Linked DNA regions of Homo sapiens: all the other regions are linked to region 3. Evidence: fine-mapped expression QTL. A gene starts in region 3. Each other region holds a variant in brackets. All regions are shown on one strand. Distances are from middle to middle. Region 1 overlaps TBCD (tubulin folding cofactor D). Region 2 overlaps TBCD (tubulin folding cofactor D). Region 3 holds the start of FN3K (fructosamine 3 kinase).

Region 1 (9,951 bases), 120 kb after region 3:
TCTTCTCCACCTCGATGTTCCCCTCTGCCTGCTGCGTCTTCTCCATCTCGATGTCCCCCTCTGCCTGCTGCGTCTTCTCACCTCGATGTCCCCCTCTGCCTGCTGCGTCTTCTCCACCTCAATGTCCCCCGCTCTGCTGCGTCTTCTCCACCTCGATGTCCCCCTCTGCCTGCTGCGTCTTCTCCACCTCGATGTCCCCCTCTGTCTGCTGCGTCGGGGCTGCCTACCGGGCTTGGTCTTCAGGGCCACTGTTTCTCCTCAGCTAAGTCCTGAGAGTCACATTTCCATCCATTGCAGTGAAATCTTTTCCTTCAGGTATTTCCAGACCTTGGTTTTGGCCCCTTTTCATATCTTCCTTGTTTCCTCGCTGTGGTTTTCATTTCCCCTTTCGTCTCCTTAACCTGTTTTTTGATGGTGTCTTTTTAGGTTATCTCAAGTTCATTTCAAGCTCTGAAAGTAGGAAGTAAAGTAAGAACCGCGTGGCACTAGCAATCACTAGGCATTGTTCCAAGCACACGGATAAACTGAGAATCCTCGTGGTCGCCCCGGGGGTGGGACTGCCATTGTCCAGAGAGACCTGCTTTTGCCTGTGGTGCCACACGGGTCCCTCTCACAGGATGCGACCATGGTGGCTTTGCGTCATGTCACCTCAGCCAGGCAGGACCTTCTGCTGGAACCCCCTTCCCTGGTAGTCCTCGGAGAGGGCTGTGCACAATCTGGAGGCAGAAGCGAAGCAGTAGCCCCCGTGCGCGGCAGCTCTTGAGGCTGTGCTGCTGTTGGCTGTGCTGTTGTTGGCTGTGCTGTTGTTGGCTGTTTTGCTGTTGGCTGTGCTGTTGTTGCCTGTGCTGCTGTTGGCTGTGCTGCTGTTGGCTGTGCTGCTGTTGGCTGTGCTGCTGTTGGCTGTGCTGTTGTTGGCTGTGCTGTTGTTGGCTGTGCTGTTGTTGGCTGTGCTGCTGTTGGCTGTGCTGTGCTGCTGTTGGCTGTGCTGCTGTTGGCTGTGCTGCTGTTGGCTGTGTTGTTGTTGGCTGTGCTGTTGTTGGCTGTGCTGTTGTTGCCTGTGCTGCTGTTGGCTGTGCTGCTGTTGGCTGTGCTGTTGTTGGCTGTGCTGCTGTTGGCTGTGCTGCTGTTGGCTGTGCTGTTGTTGGCTGTGTTGTTGTTGGCTGTGCTGCTGTTGGCTGTGCTGTTGTTGGCTGTGCTCTTCTGCTGTTGGCTGTGCTGTTGTTGGCTGTGCTGTTGTTGGCTGTCCTGTTGTTGGCTGTCCTGTTGTTGGCTGTGCTGTTGTTGGCTGTGCTGTTGTTGGCTGTGCTGTTGGCTGTGCTGTTGTTGGCTGTGCTGTTTTGCTGTTGGCTGTGCTGTTGTTGGCTGTGCTGTTGTTGGCTGTGCTGTTTTGCTGTTGGCTGTGCTGTTGTTGGCTGTGCTGTTGTTAGCTGTGCTGTTGTTGGCTGTGCTGTTGTTGGCTGTGCTGCTGTTGGCTGTCCTGTTGTTGGCTGTGCTGTTGTTGGCTGTGCTGTTTTGCTGTTGGCTGTGCTGTTGTTGGCTGTGCTGTTGTTGGTTGTGTGTGCTGACCCCGGACCCCCTACAGTATGGCTGTGCATGGACTGGTGATTTGGCCCCCATGGCCTCATCAGCCCTGATCCATCCCTGCATTGAATTCGTATGGGGCTTGTGGTGAGTCTGGACTGACTCAGCTTTCTAAAAGCTGAAAAGCAAAAGTTAATAGGTCTGCAGAGATAAATGGACAGACCCGGTATCCTCCTGAGAGCTCAAAACACCTCCCAATTATTGATAACTAAATATGTAGTGGAGATATAGATATGTATAAAACGCACATTACATACTGTGTGTGCACATACAATATTTCAACAGCAGAGGCGACTGGCATGATTCCATAATTGATACAGAACCGTGTAGCTAGCCGTTGGAGAATACACATTTGTAGGCACCTGAGGAACATTCACAGATATTACACAGCCAGGCCATAAAACAAGTCTCGAGACATTTCAGAGACTCACTGGCGGACAGATGGTATTCCATGCTCACAAAGTAATGAAATTAAAAACTGGATACAGAATAATAAAGGAAAGGTGATAATTTTTAGTTAGAAGATATACAAATGTGTAAATCACATGAGTCAAGTCTCAGGAGGTTTTAAAATAAAAAGTTAAAAAAGTTTAAAAATAAAAATAAACAGTCACAAAATTATTCTATCTAAAATTTTGGGATGCAGCTAAGGAAACTTAAACCTTTAAACAGGTGTGACGAAATTGTGGCCTGCAGGCCCAGTGGGGCCTCAGCCTGTTTCTGTACAGCTTTGGAGCCAAGAAGGGTTTTCACATTTTAAAAATGTTATCAATGAGAATAAACACAACCAAGCAGAGTCTGCGATGTGGACTGCATGTGGCCCACAGGGCCCGAGGTTCTCTCTGGCCCTGGCAGGAATCACTTGGTGACTCGGCCTCAGACACGTGTACAGAAAAGGAGAAAGGTTCACTCTGCACAGGGCGGGTGGGAAGAGGGCAGTGAGCAGAACCCTAGAAATGAAGGAGGTGGAAGACAAAGATGAGAGAGGACACACAGAGCCAAACGCAGCTCTTCGAGAGGGCTGATGGGACCAATAAACGCGTGGCCGACGGGCAGAAAGCAGGAGCCTTACACACGGAAGGGAGCCCTCGTGCAGCCACCGTGGAGATGGAAAATGGCATGTTAAGAATATCTTTTGCCAGGAAATTTGGTAGCTTAGGCAAAATAGACGTTCCGAGAGAAATGTAATTTATCAAAGTTGACCCAGGTGGGAATAGAAAAGTGACTCCTCACTGCTTCAGCGCATCTGCTTGTAAGCGGGAACGATTACTGTTGACCCCATAGGATTTTTAATGATTTTGTTGAGACGCAATTCACATGCCATTCAGTTCTGTCATTAAGTGTACAGTTCAGTGGCTTGTAACGCATTTGCAGAGTTTTGCAGCCATCGCCACAGTCAGTTGTAGAACATTTTACCCCACGCTCCTTCGCTGTCATCCCCAACCCCCCCGACAGATGGATAAACCCCCCCTCCTAGACACCACAGATGGGTTCTCTGTGTCTACCCATTCTGGACATTTCCTGTGAATGGAACCGTGCCCCCTGTGGTCCTCTGTGGTGGCTCCTTGCCCCGAGCGTGGCGTTGGCGTGGTCCGTGGGCGATGCAGCCCCCAGCAGTGCTCCTTTTCTTTTCCTTGTTGAAGCCTGTTCCATCGTGTGGCATCTTAGTCAGCTCAGGCTGTGGAAACAAGTCACCACAGATGGGGGCTCAAGCAGCACAAATGTATCCCTCACAGTTCTGGAGGCTGGGTGTCCAAGGTCGAGGTGCCAGCAGGCTCGGCAGCAGGCTCGGTTTCTTCCGGGTTTTCCTGGGCCTGCAGGCGCTGCCTTCCTGCTGCGTGCTCGCCGTTCGGTCTGTGTCTTGGTGTCCTTGTTTCCTCTTCTTAGGCGGACACTGGTCATAGCAGATCCGGGCCCCACTTGCGTGGCCTCATTTTACCTTACGCATCTCTAAGGGCCACATCTCCAGATACAGGCACTCGGGGGCACTGGGGTTAAGACTTCAGTATGTGGATTTCAGGGAGACAGAATTCAGCCCACGACGTACATGGAGGCCGCATTTTATTTATCCATCTGTCAGTTGGTAGACGTTTGGGTTGTTTCCCACTGTAGGCTGCTGTGAATAAAGCATTCGTGTGTGAGTTTTTGTGTGGATGTGGTTTTTGTCTTGGGTATAGGCCTGGGCTTGGAGCATAGGACTGTTCGGAAAGTTAAGGGAATGAACGTATTCAGAGCTCAGAACCGTGTCTGGCTTGCGATGCGTTCTGTTTTGAGGTTAGTGATGATGATGGAGAGCGGCTCCCGAGGACGAGAGCTCGTGATGGAGAGTGCCTCTTTATGCCCGATGTGAATGTGGCTACTCAGCTTTCTCTCTCTCTTTTTTTTTAAATTAATTTATTTTGTCGAGACAGGTTCTTGCTCTGTTGCCCAGGCTGGAGTGCAGTGGTGTGATCATAGCTCACTGCATCCTTGACCTCTTGGGCGCAAGTGATCCTCTGACCTCAGCCTCCTGAGTAGCTGGAACCACAGGCATGTGCCACCACGCCCAGCTAATTGTCGTATTTTTTTTCTTTTTCTTTTTTTGTAAGGGTAGGGTTTTGCCATGTAGCTGGTCTCAAAGTCCTGGGCTTAAGCAGTCCACCTGTCTCAGCTTCCTAAGGTGCTGGGATTACAGGCTTGAGCCACTGCATCCAGCAACACCCCCCCTCCTTTTTTTTTTCTGTTTTTGAGTCAGGGTCTTGCTCTGTTGCCCAGGCTGGAGTGCAGTGGCTCACTCACGGCTCACTGTAGCTTTGAACTCATGGGCTAGATCCATCCCCTGACCTCAGCCTCACAAGTAGCTGAGACTACAGGTGTTTGCCAGCACACCCAGCTCATTTTTTCTTTTTTTTTTTGTAGAGACGGTCTCACCATCTAGCCCAGGTTGGTCTTGAACTCCTCGCCTCAAATGATCCTCTCATCTTGGCCTCCCAAAGTATTGCGATTACAGGCATGAGCCACTGTTAATGGCCCCAGCTTTCTTTGGGTTCGTGTTTTCTCAGTGTATTCTTTTCTGTCTTTTAATTTTTTTATATTCTTGCATTTTAGATGTATGTTGAGTAAAAATCTACCGTATGTGATTTTAAGCTGGTGAGTTTAGTCCATTTACTTTACTGACATGTTTGGGTGTCTTTGTCTTATTATATGAATTTTGCTTTTTCAGATTTTTTTTTGTTTTTAAAAGTTGTGGTTCCTATTGGGCCCCCAACCCAGTCCCATTCCACATCTTCTTCCTTGTTGGTTTGGAATCATCTATTCTGTTTCCTGTGTTTCTTCAGGGGTCGTATTCAGCTTGTACCACGAATATTCAGAGCCAACAGCCAGCTTCTTAGCCTACCCTCCAAGTAACACACAGCACACCCTGACCTCGATCACTTTCCATCTGACATATTTGACATTGTTGAGTTTTTAGTTCTTCTTGTTTAACATTAGACATTACAGGTTGAGCACCCTGAATCCGAAAATCCAAAACCGAAAACTTTTTGAATGCTGAGTTGACACTCTGCAGGTGATGGGCTGCAGTCAAAACACAGGTAAACAACACACAGTTGATTCAGCACCCCAAGGGGAAAAAGATCCTCCCA[G/A]CCCCCTTCAGCTTTGATAAATCCTTTCCACATAAGACCAGGTTCCCTCATGCAAGCACGTCCACAAAGGGCGATGAAATGTCGGGTGCAGGCCGGACGCAGGCGCTGCAGGCTCCTTATGAGGCTCCACATGGGCGAGACCTGTGCGCACCGCTCGTGTGTTTGCGTATCCTCTGCTCTGTGGTGTACAGATACTGTTGAAAACATCAGAAAGGCCTGCAGGTTACTTGTATGGGGGTGTACAGATACTGTTGAAAATGTCAGAAAGGCCTGCAGGTTACTTGTATGGGTAACAGTGGTCAGAAAAGGGGCAAGCATTCACGTTTGCATGTCGCACAGAAAGTCAGACTGCTGGGGGGAGCTGGGCAGCAGTGTAAGAGCACGGTGCTGGAGTGAGTGCCAGAGATGACCTAAGAAACAGGAGGAATGGTTGACGTTCTGTGCTGGAAACGATGACCAGAAAAACCCTGCACAAAGCTACACGTGAAATTTCTATCACGTATTGAAAGAGTGGATCTGTCAGCATCGCAGTGGACACAAGCCACTTAACAGTGCCAATCACAAGACAAGCAAAGCTCTGTGTAAAGGCCCTGATCGCATTCATGAAGCTCTGTCCTTGGGACTCATCATCTACGAAAGGCCACACCTCCTAACACCGTGCTCTTGGGAGTGAGGATTTCAGCAGGAATTCTGGGGAACAGAAGCATTGGGGCGTCGCATCTCCCTGTGGCCTTCCTCCCTGTGGCCTTCCTCCGCCTGCCAGCTGCCCCCTCACCCTGCTGTCCACCTCACGGACCCCTCTTCGCCCCATATGGGCCACTTTGGCCCCCACCACCCCTTCCTGGATGTGCAGACCCTATGCGGTGCCACCTGATGCTTCAAGACTGAATTTTCCAGAGGGGCAGGGAAAGGTGTTTGCTTTTTTTTTTTTTTTTTTTTTTTTTTTTTTTTTTTTAATTTTTTAGAGCCAGGGTCACTCTGTTGCTCACGCTGGAGTGAGTGCCATGGTGTAGTCGCGGCTCACTGCAGTCTTGGCCTCCTGGACTAAAGCGATCCTTCCACCTCAGCCTCCCAAGTCACTGTGGCACTATGGGTGCATGCTACCGTGCCCGGCTAATTTTTTTTATCTTTTGAAGAGATGGGATCTCACTATGTTGCCCAGGCTGGTCACGAACTCCTGGGCTCACGTGATCTACTCACCTCGGCCTCCTGAAGGGCTGGGATTACAGGTGTGAGCCACTGTGCCTGGCCAGGTGTTTGCTCTTAAAAAGTCATTTCTCTCTTTCTGTGTGTATTTGTGTTTTGAGGTAAAATTTCACATAACATAAAAATAACCATTAACTTTAAAGTGAAAAACTCAGAGCATTTAGTACATACCCAATGTTGCACAGCTATTACTTCTGTCTACTTTTAACACATTTTTGTCACCGAAAAAATACTCTGGTGTCCATTCACATAGTCATGACACATCACGACACATGACTGTATTCCCAACCCCTGGCACCTGCCAGGCTGTTTTCTGCCTCTACGTTTACTTATTCTGAGAATTTTATACACATGGAGTCTGCAATGCGTGACCCTTTGTGCCTGGTTCATCTGTATTGTAGCATGTGTCAGGCCTTCATTTGTTTTTATGGCTGAATAATATTGCTTTGTATGGGTAGACTCCCCCCCCACTTTTTTTTTTTTTTTTTTTTTTTTTGTAGAGACAGGGTCTCACCATCTAGCCCAGGTTGGTCTTGAACTCCTGGCCTCAAATGATCCTCTCATCTTGGCCTCCCAAAGTATTGTGATTACAGGCATGAGCCTGAATCTGAAAAAGCAAAATTCATATAGTAAGACAAAGACACCCAAACATGTCAGTGAAGTAAATGGACTAAACTCACCAGCTTAAAATCATATGGTAGAATTTTACTCAACATACATCTAAAATGCAAGAATATAAAAAGATTAAAAGGAAAGACAGAAAAGAATATGCTGAGAAAACACTAACCAAAAGAAAGCTGGGGCCAGTAACAGTGGCTTAATGCCTGTAATCACAATACTTTGGGAGGCCAAGATGAGAGGATCATTTGAGGCGAGGAGTTCAAGACCAACCTGGGCTAGATGGTGAGACCCTGTCTCTACAAAGAAAAAAAGAAAAAAAACAGACGCCCCAATGCTTGCGTTCCCCAAAATTCCTGCTGAAATCCTGACTCCCAAGGGCACAGTGTTAGGTGTGGCCTTTCGTAGATGATGAGTCACAGGGACAGAGCTTGATGAATGCTATCAGGGCCCTTACACAGTTGACGGACACTTAAGTTTTCCCACCTTTTGGCCCTTGTGAAGAATGCTTCTGTGAACGTTTGCGTACAAGTGTCTGTTTGAATCCCTGTCTTCCCCTTTTTTGGGTGCGCATCCAGGGCGGGATCGCTGGACCGCGTGCGGACCCTCGCTGCGCATCCAGGGCGGGATCGCTGGACCGCGTGCGGACCCTCGCTGCGCATCCAGGGCGGGATCGCTGGACCGCGTGCGGACCCTCGGTGCGCATCCAGGGCGGGATCGCTGGACCGCGTGCGGACCCTCGCTGCGCATCCAGGGCGGGATCGCTGGACCGCGTGCGGACCCTCGGTGCGCATCCAGGGCGGGATCGCTGGACCGCGTGCGGACCCTCGGTGCGCATCCAGGGCGGGATCGCTGGACCGCGTGCGGACCCTCGGTGTGTTACTGAGGCGTCCCCAAGCTGTTTCCACAGACGCTGTGCTGCCCTGCATTCCCACCAGCAAGGCGCAGAGCTTCTGGTTTCTCCATGTCCTCACCAACACCTGTGTTGTTCTTTTTTAAAAAATTATAATCAGCCTCGTAGGTGTGAGGGGGTATCTTGTGATTTTGATTTGAATTTTTCTTAATGACGAATGACACTGAGCATCTTTTCATGTGCTCCTTGGTTGTTTGTGTATTTCTCTGGATAAATGTCTAGTCAAGTCCTTTGACCATTTTTAAATTGGATTGTTTGTCCTTTTGTTGTTGAGTTGTAAAGCTGTTTGTATCTTCTGGATATTAAACTCTTATCAGATATATCATTTGCAAGTATTTTCTCCCATTCTGTTGGTTGTCTTTTTTTTTCTTTTGATAATGTCTTTGTATTGTGTCGTGTTTAATGTAAACATTTCACCATTGTTTTAATTCCCTCTTTTCAGTTCTTTTCTGTGTGTGTGCAGTTTTTGGGTGTGTGTGATGTGTACATACACACATGCACATATACAGGTGTCTAAAAAGTATTTTGTTTTTTTGTTTTAAATATTTGACACTTTTAAATTGGAGTTGAGATTCTGTATGGAGTAACGTATTGTTGAATGACAGGAAAGTATGAAGCTTGTCGGAGTGTTATTACTTGGCATAGCCACAGGAGCCATACAAATGATACAACCTTGCTGCTTGTGTCTCATGGTTTTTTTTTTTTTTTAATTTAATTTAATTTTTTTTTCATTTTTTTTTTAAATTATACTTTAAGTTTTAGGGTACATGTGCACATTGTGCAGGTTAGTTACATATGTATACATGTGCCATGCTGCTGCACTGCACCCACTAACTCGTCATCTAGCATTATTTTAATTTGTTTTAGTTTTTTTTTTGAAAAAGGGTCTTGCTGTGTCACTCAGGCAGGAGTACAGTGGTATGATCACAGCTCACCGCAGCCTTGACCTCCCAGGCTCAAGCGATCCTCCTGCTTCAGCCTCCCAAGTAGCTGGTGCTACAGGGGCACACCATCATACCTGGCTAACTTTTGTATTTTTTTGTAGAGATGGGATCTCCCTATGTTGTCCAGGCTGGTCTCGAACTCCTGGGCTCAAGTGATCCTCCCGCCTCAGCCTCCCTAAATGCTGGGATTACGAACATGAGCCACTGTGCCCAGCCAGCCTTTGTTGTTTTTGAAAGTTGAAATTCATGTTTTTGGATCAAAGCTAAGCTGTGACATATAAACATGAAGTGATCTAGTTAGGTTTGGTTATACACCATGTGCAGAAAGCAACCTCTTCATGAATCTTTTAATGAACATCTTTCTACCTGGAAGAAACCCTTTACCTACTAAACTTACTTTCACACCTTCCTAATTTTGTTGTCTTCCGTGTTTTTGCTAGCTCCAGGCCTATTCGGCATTTAAAATAAAATGCAGGTTGGCCAGTCTGGCTGGGCAGTTCTACAGGTACTACGGCTGGAGGATCCCAGTTGACTTGAAATTCAGGTTTTGCTTGTGAAAGTAGCTGGCTGGGGCTTCTGTTGATGACAGTGCTGTGTGGACGGCCTGGTTCGCTGGGTGTGCCTCACAGACACAGGACACTTTTTAGGGTTGCTTTTGAATGTGCCTGAGGTGAGGTTCCTGTGTTTTCCTTGTACTTACCTTCATATTTTCTGACCCTCCTGTGGATGGAAAATCGACTGAGTGTGTGAAGGGCCTGTCGGTGTGAACGGGCCCTGCTCAGCCGGTCCATGGCTGTCTTAGGATCCCGCTTGGTGGCGAGGAGGGTGCGGCTCGTGGGTGGCTGCCTGGGGCTACCCCGTGTAGACTTGCTGGGACTTTGTCTAGACAAGAGAACTGCTGTCAGTGGCGCTTCCTGCGGGGGGATGAGTGCGGCTCTCAGCGCCTCTGTGGGGCTGGGGGTCTTGGGCCGTGAGGCCGGGGCCAGGCTGCGTGGCAACCCTGAGTCCCACCCTCATTGTCTTTGCTCGGGGCCCCGAGAGGCCATGGGGAGCCTGCCGGCTCTGT
Region 2 (9,951 bases), 39 kb after region 3:
TCACGCCTGTAATCCCAGCACTCTGGGAGGCCAAGGTGGGCATATCACCTGAGGTCAGGAATTCGAGACCAGCCTGACCAACATGGAGAAACCTTGTCTCTACTAAAAATACAACATTAGCTGGGCGTGGTGGCACGTGCCTGTAGTCCCAGCTACTCAGGAGGCTGAGGCAGAAGAATCGCTTGAACCTGGGAGGCGGAGGTTGTGGTGAGCCGATATCACGCCATTGCACTCCACCCTGGGCAACAAGAGTGAAACTCCGTCTCAAAAAAAAAAAAAAAAAGTAGTATGGTTTACCCACCCTTGTTTACTTGTCTGTGGAGAGGGACTGCCAGGTCAAGGGAGCATGGTTTGTCAAGACTTGGCACTCTGTGATTGCCGTTAGAAAGCCTGCCCCGGAGGCCGGGCACGGTGGCTCACACCTGTAATCCCAGCACTTTGGGAGGCCGAGGCAGGTGGATCACGAGGTCAGGAGTTTAAGACCAGCCTGGACAAGATGGTGAAACCCCATCTCTACTAAAAATACAAAAATTAGCCGGGAATGGTGGCTAGTGCCTGTGATCCTTTCATATTTATTCAACTGTTCTCTTACAAATGAACAGCTACTTGGGAGGCTGAGGCAGAGAATTGCTTGAACCCGGGAAGCAGAGGTTGCAGTGAGCCAAGATTGCACCACTGCACTCTAGCCTGGGCAGCAGAGCAAGACTCCGTCTCAAAAAAAAAAAAAAAAAAAAAAGCCTGCCCCAGAAAAAAAGATCTTCTAAGTGTATCGTTATGGGAAAAAACAAACAAACAAACAAAAAAAACCGAGACAAGCATTGGAAACATTTTAAGGCAGCCCTCCGAAAAATAAATCTAGCTGGGCGTGGAGGTTTCATGCCTGTAATTCCAGCACTTTGGGAGGCCAGGGTGGGAGGATAGCTTGAGCCCAGGAGTTTGAGAGCAGCCTAGACAATATAATGTGACTCAGTCTCTACCAAAAAATAAAAGAAAATTAGCCAGGTGTGGTGGTACACACCTTTGGTCCCAGCTATTCTGGAGGCTGAGGTGGGAGGGTCATCTGAGCTGGGGAGGTTGGTGCTGCAGTGAGTTTTTTTTTTTTTGAGATGGAGTCTTGCCCTGTCACCCATTCTGGAGTATAGTGGTCTAATCTCAACTCACTGCAGCCTCTGCCTTTGAGGCTCAAGCAATCCTCCCACCTCAGCCTCCTGAGTAGCTGGGATTACAGGCATGTGCCATCATGCCTGGCCAATTTTTGTGTCATTAGTAGAGACGGGGTTTTACCATATTGACCAGGCTGGTCTCAAACTCCTGACCTCAGGTGATCCGCCTGCCCCAGCCTCTCAAAGTGCTGGGATTACAGGCGTGAGCCGCAGTGCCCAGCCTACAGTGAGCTTTGCTCACACCACTGTACTCCAGCCTGGGTGACAGAGCGAGACCCGGTCTCAAAACAACAGCAAAAAAACCCTAAGACCAGCTACTGGGGAGGCTGAGGCAGGAGAATGGCGTGAACCTGGGAGGCGGAGCTTGCAGTGAGCCGAGATCGCGCCACGGCCCTCCAGCCTGGGCGACAGAGCAAGACTCCGTCTCAAAAAAAAAAAACAAAAACAAAAACAAAAAATATATACACCTACTATGTACCCCAAAAATTAAACACTAAAAATTAAAAATAACTAGGTATTTGTAGTAAATCTAGGTGCTCTTCAGTTTGAACAGGGCCTCTTATCTAGTCTGAATACTCCAATACTGATGGTTCCCTTGTGCTGGAAGGCATATTAGGTGCTCAATGAATACTCTTGATTCTTTGTTACAATTGGGTAACTCCTTTGTTTACATTCTCCTGCTCTGTTCTTGCAAATGTGTGTTTCAAGGGGGTGTGACCAAATGCTCTGTGTAGCTCAGGCACTTCCTGGGTGAGTGTAGCAGTTGGCAGCTGTAGCCCTTGGCTCAGATTGAAGAGAGGTTTTTTTTTGCAGCTTTGGACTTAGGCCTGTGCTGGTAAGGTTTGTGAACCTGGGCCCTCGGGGAGCTGGTGAGGGTGGGACTGGTGACTGTGTGGTGTCCCCAAGGCTGGCGTGTGCAGGAGTGACCGTGTCTGTGCTTCACCCTTTCTTGCAGTCCTACTTGATTGTCAGTGACAAGGCCCGAGATGCAGCTGCTGTCCTTGTGTCCAGGTAAGTTTCCATGGCACATTTCTTGGTGTGTGGCTGGTGGGTTCTGAGAGGGGTTTGTTTGGGTACGTGTTTCATGTGCGTCTTCAGTCCTCAGACGAAGGACCCCGGGAAGTCTTTGGACTCTGTGGCTTTCTCTGAGGGAGTGTGCAGCAGTGTTTGGGCACAGAAGACCTCTGACCCTGAAATGACCACCCTCAGTGGTGGTTTGGGGTGCTGGTGGGGGTCACCTGACAGGCCCATCGACAGGAGTGCAGGTCTGGAAGAGGCGTGGCTGTCATCCCTGGGGTGCAGCCCCTGCACAGGGATGGGGTGGCAGTTATGAGAAACATCTCGGGCCGTCTCCCATGGAGATGATGGGTGGTGTTGGGCCTCTGTGACTGGGGATGAAAATCCCCCAACGTCCTGTATTAACTGCACCCCCCGTGTGCCCCAGACAGGGGAAGGTGGTTTTCTCTGCTGAGCGCAGCAGGCCTGCGGTGTTGGAAAGATACCAAGGATGTGTGTATAGACTGAGCGAACCTGTTTCATGAGATGCAAGAAGGAAGAAAGCAATATTTCTAATCAGTATTTTACATGACATGTGATTTTAAGTATGTATGTAGTTTACTAAGTCAGAACAGTTGACATTTTCCCCCTCTGCAATAGTGAAAGTCGAAAGCTGGTCCTAAAACCTTTCGGTGGTTGTGGTTGGGAATACGGTCAGTGCCTCATGCAGCGTCACCTTCACTCGGGTGTGTAGCTGCAACTTGCACAGCTTCTTTCCCAGAGAAGTGGGAGGAGAGAAGCTTCCTTTGTGGGGCAGTTGGAGGCATTGGATGAGGGGTTTGTGACAGCCTGGAGCTGAGGAAGGAACGCCTGAGTCCCCTGGAGCAGGTGAGGCCCCTCCCGAGAGGGCAGAGGCTGCTTCCTGTCTTGTCAAGGACATAAAAAGATGATCGTCTAATTATTAAAGTAATCTGTATATATTTAGATAATAGAGCATGAAGTACAAAATAAAACCTTTGAATGCTTTCATCCCATGGGGGTGTGATGGCCCCTGTCTCCCTACCGGGTGGCGCCAACTCTGTCCATGGTCTCCCCGCGGGGCGGCACCAACTCTGTCCATGGCTCAGTTGCTGCACTCAATTCTTTGCACCACGGACCAGGAGATGGGCCTGGTGCGCCATTGTCTTCTTCCAAAACGAGATGACCTGGTGCGAGAGTGTCTTTTCTTTTTCTTTCTTTTTTTTTTTTAATTGAGATGGAGTCTCACTTTGTCTCCCAGGCTGGAGTGCAGTGGCACGATCTCGGCTCACTGCAAGCTCTGCCTCCCGGTTTCACACCATTCTCCTGCCTCAGCCTCCCGAGTAGCTGGGACTACAGGTGCCCGCCACCATGCTCAGCTAATTTTTTTTTGTATTTTCAGTAGAGATGGGGTTTCACTGTGTTAGCCAGGATGGTCTCCATCTCCTGACCTCATGATCCGCCCACCTCGGCCTCCCAAAGTGCTGAGATTACAGGTGTGAGCCACCGCGCCTGGCCCGAGTGTGTCTTTTTTTTTTTTTTTTAATTTTTTTAGTATTTATTGATCATTCTTGGGTGTTTCTCAGAGAGGGGGATTTGGCAGGGTCATAGGACAATAGTGGAGGGAAGGTCGCAGATAAACATGTGAACAAAGGTCTCTGGTTTTCCTAGGCAGAGGACCCTGCGGCCTTCCGCAGTGTTTTTGTCCCTGGGTACTTGAGATCAGGGAGTGGTGATGACTCTTAAGGAGCATGCTGCCTTCAAGCATCTGTTTAACAAAGCACATCTTGCACCGCCCTTAATCCATTTACCCCTGAGTGGACACAGCACATGTTTCAGAGAGCACGGAGTTGGGGGTAAGGTTATAGATTAACAG[C/T]ATCCCAAGGCAGAAGAATTTTTCTTAGTACAGAACAAAATCGAGTCTCCTATGTCTACTTCTTTCTACACAGACACAGTAACAAACTGATGTCTCTTTCTTTTCCCCACATTTCCCCCTTTTCTATTCGACAAAACCGCCATCGTCATCATGGCCCGTTCTCAATGAGCTGTTGGGTACACCTCCCAGACGGGGTGGCAGCCGGGCAGAGGGGCTCCTCACTTCCCAGACTTGGCGGCCGGGCAGAGGCACCCCCCACCTCCCAGACGGAGCGGCGGCCGGGCGGGGGCTGCCCCCCACCCGAGTGTGTCTACCTGTCGTTTGTGGTGGGACATTTAGACTGCTGCCCTCCCAATTTGGTATTAAAACTCAATATTGCAAACAGTCCACGTAAAATTGTGTACCGTTCTGACTGATTTCTAGGGATGAGTTTCTACAAGTGGAACGCACGTTTTCAGGGTCTGAATGCAATTACTGGAGAGGCTGAACAAGTTGGAAGTTCTTTCCCCGTCTTTTCCAGTTGGGTCAAACCTTAAGAATGTTTGCCAACTTCGTTCAATGGGAAATAGTATCTGCTTTTATTCTTACTTTTCTTAGCAGCAGTACTGAGGGTTGCGTAGATTTTTGCCGAGCTTGGCTCTGTGGAGTGCGGTGCCTGTGGGCCAGGAGGCACCATCTGAGTACTTCTCCCTCCGTGGGGTCCTCCGGGAAAAGAGCGCGCTGGCTCGGGATCCCGGGCGGACTCCCGGCGAGACACCGCAGCGCCACCTAGTGCCGGGATGAGCAGGTGCTTTTCGGCCGAGCCAGTTTCCGTGCAGAACACCTGAGCCTGGGATCCAGGAGAGGTGGTGCCTGGGGGCGTCGGTGCCGTGGAGCCTTTCTCCCCCTTGGTCTCGCACACTCTCGCACACTGATTCTCAAGAGTGTTTGAGAATGGCGGATGCCGTCAGTGGAAGAGCTCTTACAGGTGCTTGGCCGGTTCCCTCGACACCTCCCAGACTCACCGCAGGTTCTGAGTTTCCTGTACTTCTCAGACCCCTTTTTGGTGAGGATTGTTCAGGTAAGGCCAGGGCTGCGAGGGGTCCTGTGCCAGCATTTGTCTGCAGTACAGGTTCGTTTTCTGCTCTCCAGGGAGGAGCAGCCTGCTCTAGCCCACTTTGCTCTCAGGATTGAATGCTTCTCCCTGTATCACTGGCGGCTCTACAGCTGCACCCGTCTCCCTTGATTAACTGAGCTTGCCAACATCCACAGCGCTGTAGGTGGTGCTTGGTGTTACAGTGTTGCTAGAACATGCAGATTGAGTGCTGCCTTAGAAACCCACAGGAAGGGGAACATCACACTCTGGGGACTGTTGTGGGGTGGGGGGAGGGGGGAGGGATAGCATTGGGAGATATACCTAATGCTAGATGACGAGTTAGTGGGTGCAGCACACCAGCATGGCACATGTATACGTATGTAACTAACTTGCACAATGTGCACATGTACCCTAAAACTTAAAGTATAATAATAAAAAAATTAAAAAAAAACCCCTTTAATAGATATGCCTTTCGCCAGGCACGGTGGCTCATGCCTGTAATCCCAGCACTTTGGGAGGCTGAGGCGGGTGGATCACCTGAGGTCAGGAGTTCAAGACCAGCCTGGCCAACATGGTGAAACCCTGTCTCCACTAAAAATACAAAAAAATTAGCTGGGCATGGTGGTGCGTGCCTCTAATTCCAGATACTTGGGAAGCTGAGGCAGGACAATCGCTTGAGCCCAGGAGGCAGAGGTTGCAGTGAGCAGAGATCGCACCATTGCACTCCAGCCTGGGCAACAGAGCAAGACTCCATCTCAAAAAAAAAAGAGGTACGCTGTATGCAGAAAAGTTGGAAATCTTGGCGTGGCGTGGTGGCACGCACCTGTGGTCCCAGCTATTCCGAAGGCTGGGTGGGAGGATTGCTTGAGCCCAGAAGGTTGAGGTTTCAGTGAGCTGTGATTGCGCCACTGCATTCCAGCCTGCACAACAGAGCAAGACCCTGTCTCAAAAAAAAGTTGAAAATCTTGAAACATAGAAGTTGGAAAAAGATATATAGGTAATTCTTATACACAGTGCGTGTACCGTGTTTATCTTCTTTGCACCGTTATGACTTTTAATGTGCACAGCATGATCTTAACAAGTCAGAGTCAGCACTGTGCTTTTTCACCTGATTTCATGTAACTGCTGATGAATGGCTCCGTCGTGTTCTGCTGTGTTTCGATACTGCACTCAGCTCTGTCACTTCCTGCCTCTTGTGAGCAGTCACGGACGCCTGGGTTTGGTTACAGACCCGTTCTCGTGTCAGGATTGTTTCGTGAGGATGGGCCCTTAGAGATGGACTTCTGGGTTCCAGGACACGAGAGTGGTGTTGGGGTCTGCACACCTGGTGGCTCTCAGCTGCTCTCTGAGCAGTGCTTTGGTGGCCGAGGCAGCCCCAGGAACACCCCACCCCCAAATTGGATTAAACATGGTGTCGCTGATTGCAGGTATTTAATTGGCATCACGCTGATTGCCCTCACCTTAGGTGTTACATACTCCGCTTCGTGACCTGACTCTGCGTGTCTGTGGGCTCCTTGGGGCCTTTTCTTCCCCACGAGTGTGAGTTTCCTCCGGTGAAGGGCGATGGGTATTGCCCCAGGTGGTTGTTGGCCTTTTCCTTTTTTTTTGGACCAAAGTTTTAATTTTAATGTCAAACCGTTTTTTTCTCCTTTATTTAGTTATTTTTACTTTTAAGCCTGCAGTCTTATTAAGAGATTTAACAAGTAGTCATTTATATTTTTCTCTACCGTTTATTAAGACAGAATTATTGATTCATTTGGGGTTTCTTTTGGTCTACAGTAGAACCCCGCCCTTCCCAGTAGGTAACCAGTTGCTTTAGTGCCATTTTGTGTCTGTAGGGACCAGCACCACAAGGTCGGTGGGTTTCTCCCTGTGTGTGGAGATGAGAGAGTGTAGAAATAAAGACACAAGACAAAGAGATAAAAGACAGCTGGGCCCGGGGGACAACTACCACCAAGTTGCAGAGACCGGTAGCGGCCCCGAATGCCAGGCTGCACTGATATTATTGGATACAAGACAAAGGGGCAGTGTAAGGAATGTGAGCCATCTCCAACGGTAGGTAAGGTCTCGTGGGTCACGTGTCCACTGGACGGGGGGCCCTTCCCTGCCTGGCAGCCGAGGCAGAGAGAGAGAGAGGAGAAGGAGATAAACAGCTTACATTATTATTTCTGCTTATCAGAGACTTTTCACTAATTTGCTACTGCTAACTAAACGGCAGAGCCAGGTGTACAGGATGGAACGTGAAGGCAGACTAGGAGCGTGACCACTGAAGCACAGCATCACAGGGAGACGGTTAGGCCTCCGGATAACTGCGGGCGAGCCTGACTGATGTCAGGCCCTCCACAGGAGGTGGAGGAGTAGAGTCTTCTCTAAACTCCCCCGGGGAAAGGGAGACTCTCTTTCCCGGTCCGCTAAGTAGCGGGTGTTTTTCCTTGACACTAACGCTACCGCTAGACCACGGTCCGCTTGTCAACAGGCGTCTTCCCAGACGCTGGCGTTACCGCTAGACCAAGGAGCCCTCTGGTGGCCCTGTCTGGGCATAACAGAAGGCTCGCACTCTTGTCTTCTGGTCACACCTCACTATGTCCCCTCAGCTCCTATCTCTGTATGGCCTGGCTTTTCCTAGGTTATGATTATAGAGCGAGGATTATTATAATATTGGAATAAAGAATAATTGCTACCAACTAATGATTAATGATATATATAATCATATCTAAGATCTGTATCTGGTATAACTATTCTTGTTTTATATTTTATTATATTGGAACAGCTCGTGTCCTTGGTCTCTTGCCTCGGCACCTGGGTGGCTTGCCGCCCACAGTATTCCGCTTTTCCATTCATTTCTAATGCTCTGTGGGAACTCTGTGCGTTTTAAAGGGAACACGGTTTGTCACCACCTTAATGCTGCTTCCTTCTGCGATGAAGTTAACTGCCCTGGGCCCCTTTTGCAGATCCGCTAAAGTTAACTCTCCTGGGGAGGACACATGAGTTTCTTTTTTCTTTCCTTTTCTTTTCGAGACAGGGTCTCACTCTGTTGCCCAGGCGCGAGTGCAGTGGCGTGATCACAGTTTACTGCAACCTCCATCTCCTAGGCTCAAGCAATCCTCCCACCTTAGCCTCCCCAGTAGCTGGGACTGCAGGCGCATGCCACGACACCCAGCCAATTTCTTTTTCTTTTTTTTTTTTTGAGACGGAGCTTTGCTCTTGTTGCCCAGGCTGGAGTGCAGTGGCGTGATTTTGGCTCTACTGGAGTGCAATGGCGTGATCTCAGCTCCACTGAACCTCTGCCTCCCTGGTTCAAGTGATTATCCTGCCTCAGCCTCCTGAGTAGCTAGGATTACAGGTGTGCGCCAGCACCCCTGGCTAATTTTTGTATTTTTAGTAGAGACGGGGTTTCACCATAGTGGCCAGGGTGGTCTCAAACTCCTGACCTCAGGTGATCCACCCGTCTTGACCTCCCAAAGTGTTGGGATTACAGGCATGAGCCACTGCGCCCGGCCATGCCTGGCTAATTTTTGTATTATTTTCTAGAGATGGGGTTTATTTATTTATTTATTTATTTATTTATTTTTACGGGGTCTTGCTCTGTTGCTAGGCTGGAGTGCAATGGTGAGATCTCGGCTCACTGCAACCTCCGCCTCCTGAGTTCAAGTGATTCTCATGCCTCAGCCTCCCGAGTAGCTGGGATTACAGGAATGCGCCACCATGCCCAGCTAATTTTTTAATATTTTTAGTAGAGATGGGGTGCAAGACAGGCTGTTCTCGAACTTCTGACGTCGTGATTCACCTGCCTTGGCCTCCCAAAGTGCTGGGATTACGGGCTTGAGCCACTGCGCCTGGCCAAGATGGGGGTCTTACCATGTTTACCAGGCTGGTCTTGAACTCCTGAACTCAAGCTATTCACCCACCTCCGCCTCCCAAATTGCTGGGATTACAGGGGTGAGCCACTGTGCCCAGCCAAATGATTCTTTACTTTCTGGAAATAGGGACTTCTTTCCCCATTGTTCATGCTGAGCCCCTCCCTAAGCATGCTCCACAGGGACAGTGGCGGAGGGGAGAGGTCCTTGCTGTTACGAGCAGTTGGCAGGTGCCAGCCGTCCTGTCAGCTGGGCAGCGCTTCTGTTTTGTGAGGGCCATGACCGAGTAGGATGGCACGTGCGTGGCTGTCTCCTGTGTGTTAAGTGCCCTGAGAGGGCTTGTCCCCACGGAAGCATGGAGCCGGCTCTCGCGCAGGCCAACTAGATGGATGTGCTGGAACAAGGGCCGGGAAGGTGGGATGGCCGGAGTTGAAGTTGCAGTGGAGATGACGTGGGGGCCGGAGGGAGGTTGGGCGTCATAGCCTGGCAGCTCCAGCTTCCACGTCTCACCTTGCCTGGGGTCTCCACGTAGCTGTCTCGTGGGCGTCGCGTGGGGCACTCCCCCACGTGGACTCTTCCGCCTCCTGGCCCTCCCAAGTGTCCCTTCCGGGAGGTGGCCTTGTGGCTGTTGAGGGAGCGCCTGGTGCCTCCCTCCTGGCATCACTGCCGTCTCCTTCCCCCCACCCCATAAAGGTGTGGCTAGGATGCCAGTCAGACCTGCCGGCATGGCCTAAAGAGGAGGTGGGCAGGCTTGGCCAGTACTGGTCCTGTCCCCAGCACCTCTCCCACTCGGCTGCTCTGCTTCGACCATGTTGCCTTTGCAGTTCGCGAGTTCCCTTGGCTCCCTTCTGCCCTGGGCCCTGGCTCTCCTGCTTCCCTGGGCAGCAGCACTTTCCTCCCAGGTTTTGCAGCCCCCCTCGTTGAGCTCCGTGGCTTCCGTCCTCTCTCTAACGAGGCCATGCCCTC
Region 3 (9,951 bases):
ACACAGTCAGAGCGTCAGCTTTTCCACAGAAGTGAATCTTTAGATACCTGAAGACAAGCCTTCTGTCCCAAAGCGTTTTACTTTTCATCCTTTTAATGAAAGTGCGCCTAAAGCGGCCAGGCGCAGTGGCTCACGCCTGTCATCCCAGCACTCTGGGAGGCCGAGGTGGGCGGATCACCTGAGGTCAGGAGTTCGAGACCAGCCTGGCAAACATGGCAAAACCCTGTCTCTACCATAAATATGAAAATTAACTGGGCGTGGTAACGTGCGCCTGCAATCTCAGCTACTCGGGAGGCTGAGGCAGGAGAATTGCTTGAACTCGGGAGGCGGAGGTTGCAGTGAGCCGAGATCGTGTCACTGCACTCCAACTTGGAGACAGGGCAAGACTCCATCTCGGGGTGGGGAAGACCTGTATCTTGGAAAGATGATGTAGGGGTGCACTGTAAGGGGTATATTGGAGGGGGAATTCCAGGCAGCAGGGAGAGGGCTGGCGGGGGCTTTCCTGTGAGTGGGTAAGCAGGACTGTGAGAAGGGCAAAGGCCCAGGAGCCATGGAGGGGCCAGGACAGGGTGGTGAGAGAGAGGGAGCAGTGCCACCGGCTTGTCCACGTATTTCACTGAAGCCTGTGCCACGTCTGCACATCCCACCTCCACCCATCCACGCCTCTGCCTGAACCACTCCATTAACCAGCTGGCCTCTGCTTGGGGTGGCCCAGGGGAGCCGAGAGGAGATGGGGAGGGTGGGTGAGGTTAGGATATCATTCTCAGACTTCCTTCATCAAGCCCACACCCCAGGCCTGGGTGGCGCCAGCTCTGTAGCCAGGCTCAGCTCTGTCCTGTGGTCTCCCCACACCCTGCCCATGTCTGTGCCAGGCCCCTTTCTTGGGTCCTCCTTGATTCCTCCAGCTTGAGGTCCACATCCCACCTTTACTCCGTCCACGCCTCTCCTCTGGGCTGATGGTAGGATCACAAGCATGGGTGGCCCCGACACCTGACCAGCACCGCAGACCAGGCCCTGTACTAAGACATCCAGGCAGATGGGGAAAAAGATGGGTGGTACCACTCCCAGAACGGGAAACCGGACAGAGGGCAGGTTCTGTTTTGTTTGTGACGGAGTCTTGTTCTGTCACCCAGGCTGGAATGCAGTGGCGTGATCTCGGCTCAGTACGACCTCCACTCCCAGGCTCAAGCAATTCTCCTGCCTCAGCGTCCCAAGTAGCTGGGATTACAGGTGTGTGCCACCATGCCCGACTAAAATTTTTTTGTATTTTTCGTAGAGATAGGGTTTCACCAAGTTGATCAGGCTGGTCTTGAACTCCTGACCTTGTGATCTACCCACCTCGGCCTCCCAAAGAGCTGGGATTACAGGCATGAGCCACTGCAACCAGCCGATACAGGTCGTTTTAAAAACAGTATTATTTGCACACCATACAATTTACTCTACTAATTCTCTAAGAAACTTGGGATCACTTAACTGCCCTGCCCTTGAATCTTCAACAGCTCTTAACCCCCCACATAGAGGACTTCCTAGCCTGGTGCCTGCATATCTGTTTCTTCATTCAGGCACCTCTTCTCACTGAGAGACCTGAGCACTCGTATGGTTCTCTGTGTGACGCCTAATATCTGACTGTAGACTCATGAGTTGTATGAAGAAAAATTACAAGGGGCTTTGAGGCAGTAACAGAGAGGACTGACTCTAGACCACAGTGTTGGAATTCCAAAAAAGAGAACCAAGAATACAGAGGGAGAACGCCATGAAGGGCTAAAAGCTGTCCCAGGATTGGAGGACCCACCAGTCCTGTTCAGGGGATGACAGGAGACTCACCCTGACACCTCCCTGGGGAATTTTTCACTGGTGTCACAGAGAAGACCCTAAAAGCCTGCAGAGATAGAACAGTTTCCACACAAAGAATAAGAACTGAAATGGCCATAAGCTTCTCAACATCAAAACTGGAGCTGGCAGCTTCTTGGTTCCTAAAGAACATGGTCTGATCTCCAAGCTGGAATTTGATACCCAGCCAAACTGTCAACTAGGAAGAAAGAAATTTACAGACGTACGAGAGCTCACACTGGCCTGTCAGGAACCTTCTGTCAAGATGCGATAGCAGGGTGGGCTTCAGATGAGAAAAAGCCAGGGACTGGCACATGCCCTTTCTGCAGACACCACAGTCATCCTCCTGTCCTACCTGCTGTTCTGCGGCAGCCCTGCCACTCCTGTCAAGAGGTGGCTGCTTGGCCGGGTGCCATGTGTAATCCCAGCACATTGGGAGGCTGAGGCAGGCGGATCACCTGAGGCCAGGAGTTTGAGACCATCCTGGCCAACATGGTGAAACCCCGTCTCTACTAAAAATACAAAAATTAGCGGGGCGTGGTGACGCGTGCCTGTAATCCCAGCTACTCAGGAAGCTGAGGTAGGAGAATCGCTTGAACCCGGGAGGTGGAGGTTGCAGTGAGCCGAGATTGCACTTCAGCCTGGGTGACAGAGCAAGACCCTGTTTCAAAAAAAAAAAAGAGGTGGCTGCGGATCCCCTTGCCTTGATTGCGGCTTTGGAGACCGATGGAAGGAGGTGGAAATGATGGTGTGTGGCTTCTGAGGCCAGGTCAGAAAAGGCCTTTGCTTCTGCCAGCTCTCTGGGAGCTCTGGCTCTCCCAGTGCTCACTCTTGGAACCTGGCCTCCATGTTCAGGGAAGCTCAGGCCACACCAGGAGGCCACATGGACATGTCCTGCTTGACAGTGACCGCTAAGCCCAGGTTCCAGTGATCCTGGCCGAGGTGCCAGATGTAGGAGTTAAGGAGCCTCCCGATGACCCCAGCCCAGCTGAGCAAGTGGGCAGGACCGCGGGGATAGGCAGCTCCCAAAGGCTCCCTCCCCGCGGCAGGACCCCTGCATCTCTGTGGGAAAAGACAATTGTTGGGGCCCTAAAAAAAACAGATTTATTGATTAAAACCTCATGCATGGCCGGGCGTGGTGGTTCACGGCTGTAATCCCAGCACTTTGGGAGGCTGAGGCACGCAGGTCACCTGGCCAACATGGGGAAACCCCATGTCTACTAAAACTACAAAATGTAGCTGGGCAGGCCGGGCCGGTGGCTTGACGCCTGTAATCCCAGCACTTTGGGAGGCCGAGCGGGTGGATCACGAGGTTAGGAGATTGAGACCATCCTGGCTCACAGGGTGAAACCCTGTCTCCACTAAAACATACAAAAATATTAGCCGGGCGTGGTGGCGGGCGCCTGTAGTCCCAGCTACTCGGGAGGCTGAGGCAGGAGAATGGCTTGAACCCGGGAGGCGGAGCTTGCAGTGAGCCGAGATCGCGCCACTGCACTGCAGCCTGGGAGACAGAGACTCCATCTCTTAAAAACACAAAAAACAAACAATAAAAAAACCTCACGTCAAATGACTTCAGCACGGACTGGGCTCAGGTGCGCACCTGCTCGTGTGCACGCGTGTGTACCCACGTGTATGCATGCATGGGCGCGCGTGGGCATTCCTGTGTCTCAAGTCCCTTTCCCAGGACATCCTGGAATCAGCAGCCCCACCCTGGGCCGGGTCAGCGCGTGCCATCGGAGCCCCCACGTCAGCCTCTCTCTCCGATCGGCACCTGGCGTCCCAGTGCGCAAGCCCCACGTCATCACGGGGGCCGCTGGGCCCGGCCTGGTCTGCAGTGTGGGAAGCCGGCCAGGCCTGTGACCAGCGCCCGGGCCGAGGGCCGGACCTGCGTCCGCTGCGGGGCAGGGATACCGGGTCCCTGCAGGGAGCTCAAGCCCCAGCGCGCCCGCGAAGAGCTGCGCGGACTCCCGGCTGCTTCCCCCGAATCCCGGGCGCAGGAAGCGCGAAGCCGGACGAACGCGGGGAGCGCGCGGCGAGCCCGCCTGAGGCCGCCCCTCCCGCCGCCCGGGGTCACGCGCCGCGCGCTCCCGCCCCGCCCCGCCCCGCAGCGCCTCAGCCGACAGGGGCTTCCGAGCGAGCAGAGTCCCGCGCCCCGCACTCCATGGAGCAGCTGCTGCGCGCCGAGCTGCGCACCGCGACCCTGCGGGCCTTCGGCGGCCCCGGCGCCGGCTGCATCAGCGAGGGCCGAGCCTACGACACGGACGCAGGCCCAGTGTTCGTCAAAGTCAACCGCAGGACGCAGGTGCTGGCCCGTGCGCAGGCGGGGGCTCTGCGGGTCTCTGCGGGGCCTGGGAAGGCGGAGGGGTCGGGGGCAGGCGCATTTCCTGGGGCTGGGCCTGGGGAGGGGTCAGCTTTGGCCCTTGGGAGGTGGCACCTGCTGGGTGAGCCCGGCTCAAGCGTTCTGTGAAGGTTTGTGTCTGCACGATCCGTGACCTTCCTTTGGCCTCCATGCGCAGCGCACAGGCTTCTAGGGGTGGTTTTAACTTTCCTATCCAGCAAGCGTCGGGGGATGTGAGGCTTGGGGTCCTTGGCTCAGCTCTGGGCCGCCCCTCTCAGCCCACCGTCCTCCTGGCAGTGGGAAAGAAGCAGAGACATGGCTGGGCCCCTGGCAGGGACCCCACGGGCCAGGCCAGCGTTCTCCTTCCCACAGGCCTTGTCTGTGTTTAGACCTGATTTCTATCTCCTGCTGAAAATAGTTCTGTTTAAGAATGTATGGAAGGCCGGGCGCGGTGGTTCACACCTGTAATCCCATCACTTTGGGAGGCCGAGGTGAGTGGATCCCTGAGGTCAGGAGTTCGAGACCATCCTGGCCAACATGGTGAAACCCCGTCTCTACCAAAAAATGCAATAATTAGCCGGATGTGGTGCCACTGGCCTGTAATCCCAGCTACTCGGGAGGCTGAGGCAGGAGAATTGCTTGAACCCAGGAGATGGAGGTTGCAGTGAGCCAAGATCGCGCCATTGCACTCCAGCCTGGGCAACAAGAGGGAAACTCCGTCTCAAAAAAAAAAAAGTATGGAAAATGTTAACGGAGGAAGTGGAGAAGGTTAGCTTCAGCCTTGAGAGCCGGCAGGTGGAGAAAGGCAGGCCTGGGTGCCCTCCCGGCCCGAGTGGGCTCAGAAGGCCCTGCACACTCTGGTGGGGGAGCTCTCTGAGGGGCAGCAGGGGTCCTGGTGGGGAGTGCTGGCAGGAGGAACACCAGAGCCATGCAGCCTGGGCGTGCGATCGGATCCTCCGGCATCACCTGCTCTGCCGGCTCAGAACCAAATCCCTCAAAGTGGGGAGTCCTACTCACAGGGAAGCAGTTTTTGGTTCAGGCTTCCCACGGGCTCTGGGAAACTTCCTCAGCTGGTCCTGAAAGCTCTGCAGGGTGAGACCCCTCCTTCCCTCCCACCCCCACGAGGGGCCGGCACATAGTAGCTGCTCAGTCCATGCATAAGAGCAGGTGATGCTGGGGCCCCTGGGGCTTAGCAGCCCCAAGGCCGGGAGTTCCTGGCCTGGTGCATGGGGGGCTCGCCCTGGAGCAGGGCTGGGGTGTGCCGGCCGCCCTCCCACCTGTGGACACTCACACCCACCCTCGGTGCAGGCTGGCCAGGGCTGCCAGGCTGGGGAGGCTGTGCCTGGGCTTTCCCTGGGGTACTTTGAAGGAAAGGGCGTTCTGTTCGTGTGCACCAGCAGATGCTTTGGTCTCATTCATGAGGTTTGATTTTTTTAAACATGCAGTCCTACACTTTGGGCGACTGAGGAAAGGTGGATCACTTGAGGCCAGGAGTTTGAGACCAGCCTGGCCATCATGGTGAAATTCCATCTCTTTTTTTTTGAGACGGACTCTTGCTCTGTCGCCCAGGCTGGATCTCGGCTCACTGCAAGCTGCGCCTCCCGGTTCACTCCATTCTCCTGCCTCAGCCTCCCGAGTAGCTGGGACTACAGGTGCCCGCCACCTTGCCTGGCTAATTTTTTGTATTTTTAGTAGAGACGAGGTTTCACCGTGTTAGCCAGGATGGTCTCAATCTCCTGACCTTGTGATCCGCCCACCCCGGCCTCCCAAAGTGCTGGGATTACAGGTGCGAGCCACCACGCACGGCGGTGGAACTCCATCTCTAGTAAAAATACAGAAAAACACAGCGGGGTGGGGTGGCCCACACCTGTAATCCCAGCTACTCAGGAGGCCGAAGCAGGAGAATCGTTTGAACCCAGGAGGCGGAGGCTGCCGTGAGCCGAGATCATGCCACTGCCCTCCAGCCTGGGTGACAGAGTGAGACCCTGTCTCAAAACAAACATGCAATTCTATAGGCCAAGGTATTCATGGACCACGTTCGTCAATGCATGTTTTCAACCAATGTGTACTGTACGTGAGGTGAGTGTTCACCTAACTGAAAACTGGAATGTTTGTGGGAATATTTCAGAAACAGGAAGGCCCAGGTCCCACGGGAGGCGTTGGGGGCCGGCCGGGTGTGCCGTGCCTTTTACCTTCCCAGCCCCTGCCCTGGACCTGAGGCCCCGCCTGATGGGCCCAGCCCTCTTCTTCCCTGCCTGACGTGTGTGCCCAAGTTAGCTCCAGTGAGGCCTCTGCTGTGGCTGCCCCACCCTAAGAGGCAGCAAGGAAGGTGGGTAGCCCGGGGGTCCAGCTCTGGACCTTGGTTCACTCACACCTCCCCACGCCCTCAGTGCTCCCGGGCACCCACACGTGGCCTGTGCATCCTCCTGTCACAGCAGCCTGCAGACCCCACACCCCTCACGGCCCAGGCTCAGCCTCAGCCTTGCAGCCTCTCGTCTCCGACGGGGGGCCCCTCTGCACCCTGCCCTCTGTGGTGGACGCCAGCTCCCAGCCAGAGCCAGCTATCAGTGAATGAAGGTCCTTGTGACTCCCACGTGGTAGCTTCTGTCAAGGGCCCAGTGGGCAGAGGCCCTGGCTGAGTCAACAAGGCTGACAAGGCTGTGTTCTGGATGCAGGCCCGGCAGATGTTTGAGGGGGAGGTGGCCAGCCTGGAGGCCCTCAGGAGCACGGGCCTGGTGCGGGTGCCGAGGCCCATGAAGGTCATCGACCTGCCGGGAGGTGGGGCCGCCTTTGTGATGGAGCATTTGAAGATGAAGAGCTTGAGCAGGTGAGTGTGTGTGAGACCCATATGCGCACATGTGTACAGGCAGAGAGAGACTCAGAGACAAACAGAGAGAGACAGAGAAAGGGATAGAGATGGGGAGGGAGACAGAAACAGGGAGAAGCCTGTGGCTGAGCCGTCCACACAACTGCCCGGTTATCAGAGGCAGGGCCAAGAGTTCCACCCTGCCATTCTTAATGGAGATAAAAAGTTACTGCTTTCTGGTATGTGACTGGTTTTCCTAGATAAGTTTGGCTGTAATGAGGCTGCATAAAATATATATATATACACATATATATATATATATATATATTTTTTTTTTTTTTGAAACACAGTCTCGCTCTGTTGCCCAGGCTAGAGTGCAGTGCAGTGGTGCAATCTCGGCTCACTGCAACTTCTGCCCCCAGGGTTCAAATGATTCTCCCACCTCAGCCTCCTGAGTAGCTGGGACTACAGGTGTCCACCACCACACCTGACTAATTTTTGTATTTTTAGTAGAGATGGGGTTTCACCATGTTGGCTGAGTTGGTCTCAAACTTCTGACTTCAAGTGATCCACCCACCTCGGCTTCCCAAAGTGCTGGGATAACAGGCCTGAGCCACCACACCTGCCCAAAATAAGTATATTTGAACCCATCATTTGCTTTGTACTTTATTTTTATTTTATTTTTCCAAGACAGAGTCTTGCTCTGTTTCCCAGGCTGGAGTGCAGTGATGCAATCTTGGCTCACTGCAAACTCCGCCTCCTGGGTTCAAGCAATTCTCTTGTCTCAGCCTCGCGAGTGGCTGGGATTACAGGCACCCCACCACCTCACGCAGCTATTTTTTTTTTTTTTTTTTTTGAGACGGAGTGTCGCTCTGTCACCCAGGCTGGAGTGCAGTGGCGCGATCTTGGCTCATTGCAAACTCTGCCTCCTGGGTTGACGCCATTCTCCTGCCTCAGCCTCCCGAGTAGAAGGGACTACAGGCGCCCGCCACCATGCCCGGCTAATTTTTTGTATTTTTAGTAGAGACGGGGTTTCACCATGTTAGCCAGGATGGTCTCGATCTGCTGACCTCGTGATCTACCCGCCTTGACCTCCCAAAGTGCTGGGATTATAGGCGTGAGCCACCGCGCCCGGCCTAATTTTTGTATTTTTAGTAGCATGTTAGCCAGACTGGTCTCAAACTCCTGACCTCAGTGATCCGCCTGCCTTGGCCTCCCAAAGTGTTGGGATTACAGGTGTGAGCCACCACACCCAGTCCATCTTTTTCTTTTGCTTTTTCTTTCCTTTTTTTTTTGTTTTTTGAGACAGAGTCTTACTCTGTCGCCCAGGCTGGAGTGCAGTGGTGCAGTCTAGGCTCACTGCAAGCTCTGCCTCTTGGGCTCAAATGATTCTTCTGCCTCAGCCTGCAGAGTAGCTGGGACTACAGGTGTACCACCATGCCTGGCTAATTTTTTGTATTTTTAGTAGAGATGGGGTTTCACCATATTGACCAGGCTGGTCTTGAACTCCTGGCCTCATGATCTGCCTGCCTTGGCTTCCCAAAGTCCTGGTACTATAGGCCTGAGCCACTGTGCCACTATGCTTGGCCCTGCATTTTCACTTATCATTACTTTCTCAGCATTCCTCCCTTAATTCCTGGTACCTCCTAAGACTTCTGTTGAAGCTCACTTGGTTAATTCCTGTTTGTGATTACATGATGTTATTTTCTGGAAAGAGTCTTTGCCAGTGCTGGGCGTGGTGGTTCACACCTGTAATCCCAGTATTTTGGAAAGCCGAGGCAGGAGGAGACCCCATCTCTACAAAAAAAAAAAAAAAAAAAAAAAAAGCCAGGAATGGTGGCACAGGCATGTGGTCCCAGCTAGTTGTGAGGCTGAGGTGGAAGGATTGCTTGAGCCCTAGAAGTCAAAGCTGCAGTGAGCCATGATTGTGCCACTGCACTCCAGCCTGGATGACAGAGCAAGGCCTGGCCCCAGAAAAGAAAGAAAAAGCAAAAGAAAGAGTCATTGCCTGGTGTTCACTTTTTACTGTTTGAAGAATGGAGAATAGTTTTCAATGTATTTAAACCTTTCTCAAAATGGAACAAACTGGGTGGTGTTATTTATTATTTGTTATTTTAATTAGCTGCATTTCTTCTTTCCTCAGTCAAGCATCAAAACTTGGAGAGCAGATGGCAGATTTGCATCTTTACAACCAGAAGCTCAGGGAGAAGTTGAAGGAGGAGGAGAACACAGTGGGTATGTTCAGATTGCTTTTGGGTACCCTTGATCCAGCCACATTGTCTACCCTAGATGGGTGCTCATGGTACTTCTTGGTGGCATTTCAATAATAGGTTGAGTTGTATACCGTCTGTCTTTACACTACATTATGAAAATGAGATTATTAAATAAGAATTTTGATGTAGCTGATAAGCTAGTAGAATTGGCACATGATCCCTTTTATACCCAGCCCTCCTGTCTGGTGTGCTTGAGGTAATAATAACCCCTTTTATACCCAGCCCTGCTGTCTAGTGTGCTTGAGGTAGGAGTGTCCTGGCAGATCCATATATTGACTAATTGCTACTGTATGTAGTACATCCTCAGACCACCTATATTCTAGCATGCGTAGCCCAGGCTTGTACTGATGCTCTGCTGAGGTCTGGCATTTAAGAGAAAGACAAACAGCTCCTTCAGGCCAAGGATCTCTGTCAACAGGCCGAAGAGGTGAGGGTGCTGAGCCTCAGTATGTGGACAAGTTCGGCTTCCACACGGTGACGTGCTGCGGCTTCATCCCGCAGGTGAGTGCCTGGGTGAGGGTGTTCCCTGATGCCCTAATGCTGGTCACCCACTCTTTATATGTGACAGAATGCTAATCTCCCAAGCACCAGCAAGATTGACTACTTGATTTCTGAAAGCAGAGTAGAAGCTGTGATACCTGGAATGGGGAGAGCAGACGCTGAGGGTCACTGAGCTGAGCTGGGCAGGGTCATGGGACATGCTG

Evidence for each region. PIP is the estimated chance that this variant, and not a neighbour inherited with it, causes the effect. A credible set is the group of variants that fine-mapping cannot tell apart.
Region 1: its variant is the best candidate, but not a certain one, in a credible set for the expression of FN3K in whole blood (INTERVAL, PIP 0.83).
Region 2: its variant is the best candidate, but not a certain one, in a credible set for the expression of FN3K in ileum (GTEx, PIP 0.50).

What each region holds. Positions count from the first base shown.
Region 1 is chr17:82,849,113-82,859,063 of GRCh38, forward strand. The region is part of intron 13 of TBCD (tubulin folding cofactor D); the gene reads left to right. Among named protein-coding and RNA genes, the nearest start is that of ZNF750, 14 kb to the left of the region's middle. RefSeq lists enhancers at 375-604, 961-1,463. The variant G/A (reference allele first, on the strand shown) is at 5,205.
Region 2 is chr17:82,770,334-82,780,284 of GRCh38, forward strand. TBCD (tubulin folding cofactor D) reads left to right here. Exons shown (of 39, transcript NM_005993.5): 6 at 2,119-2,174. Among named protein-coding and RNA genes, the nearest start is that of TBCD, 23 kb to the left of the region's middle. The variant C/T (reference allele first, on the strand shown) is at 4,054.
Region 3 is chr17:82,731,646-82,741,596 of GRCh38, forward strand. It overlaps FN3K (fructosamine 3 kinase), which reads left to right and starts at 3,970. Exons shown (of 6, transcript NM_022158.4): 1 at 3,970-4,132; 2 at 6,844-6,995; 3 at 9,118-9,209; 4 at 9,666-9,748. The coding sequence starts at 3,992. RefSeq lists enhancers at 3,001-3,713, 4,426-5,138, 5,139-5,850.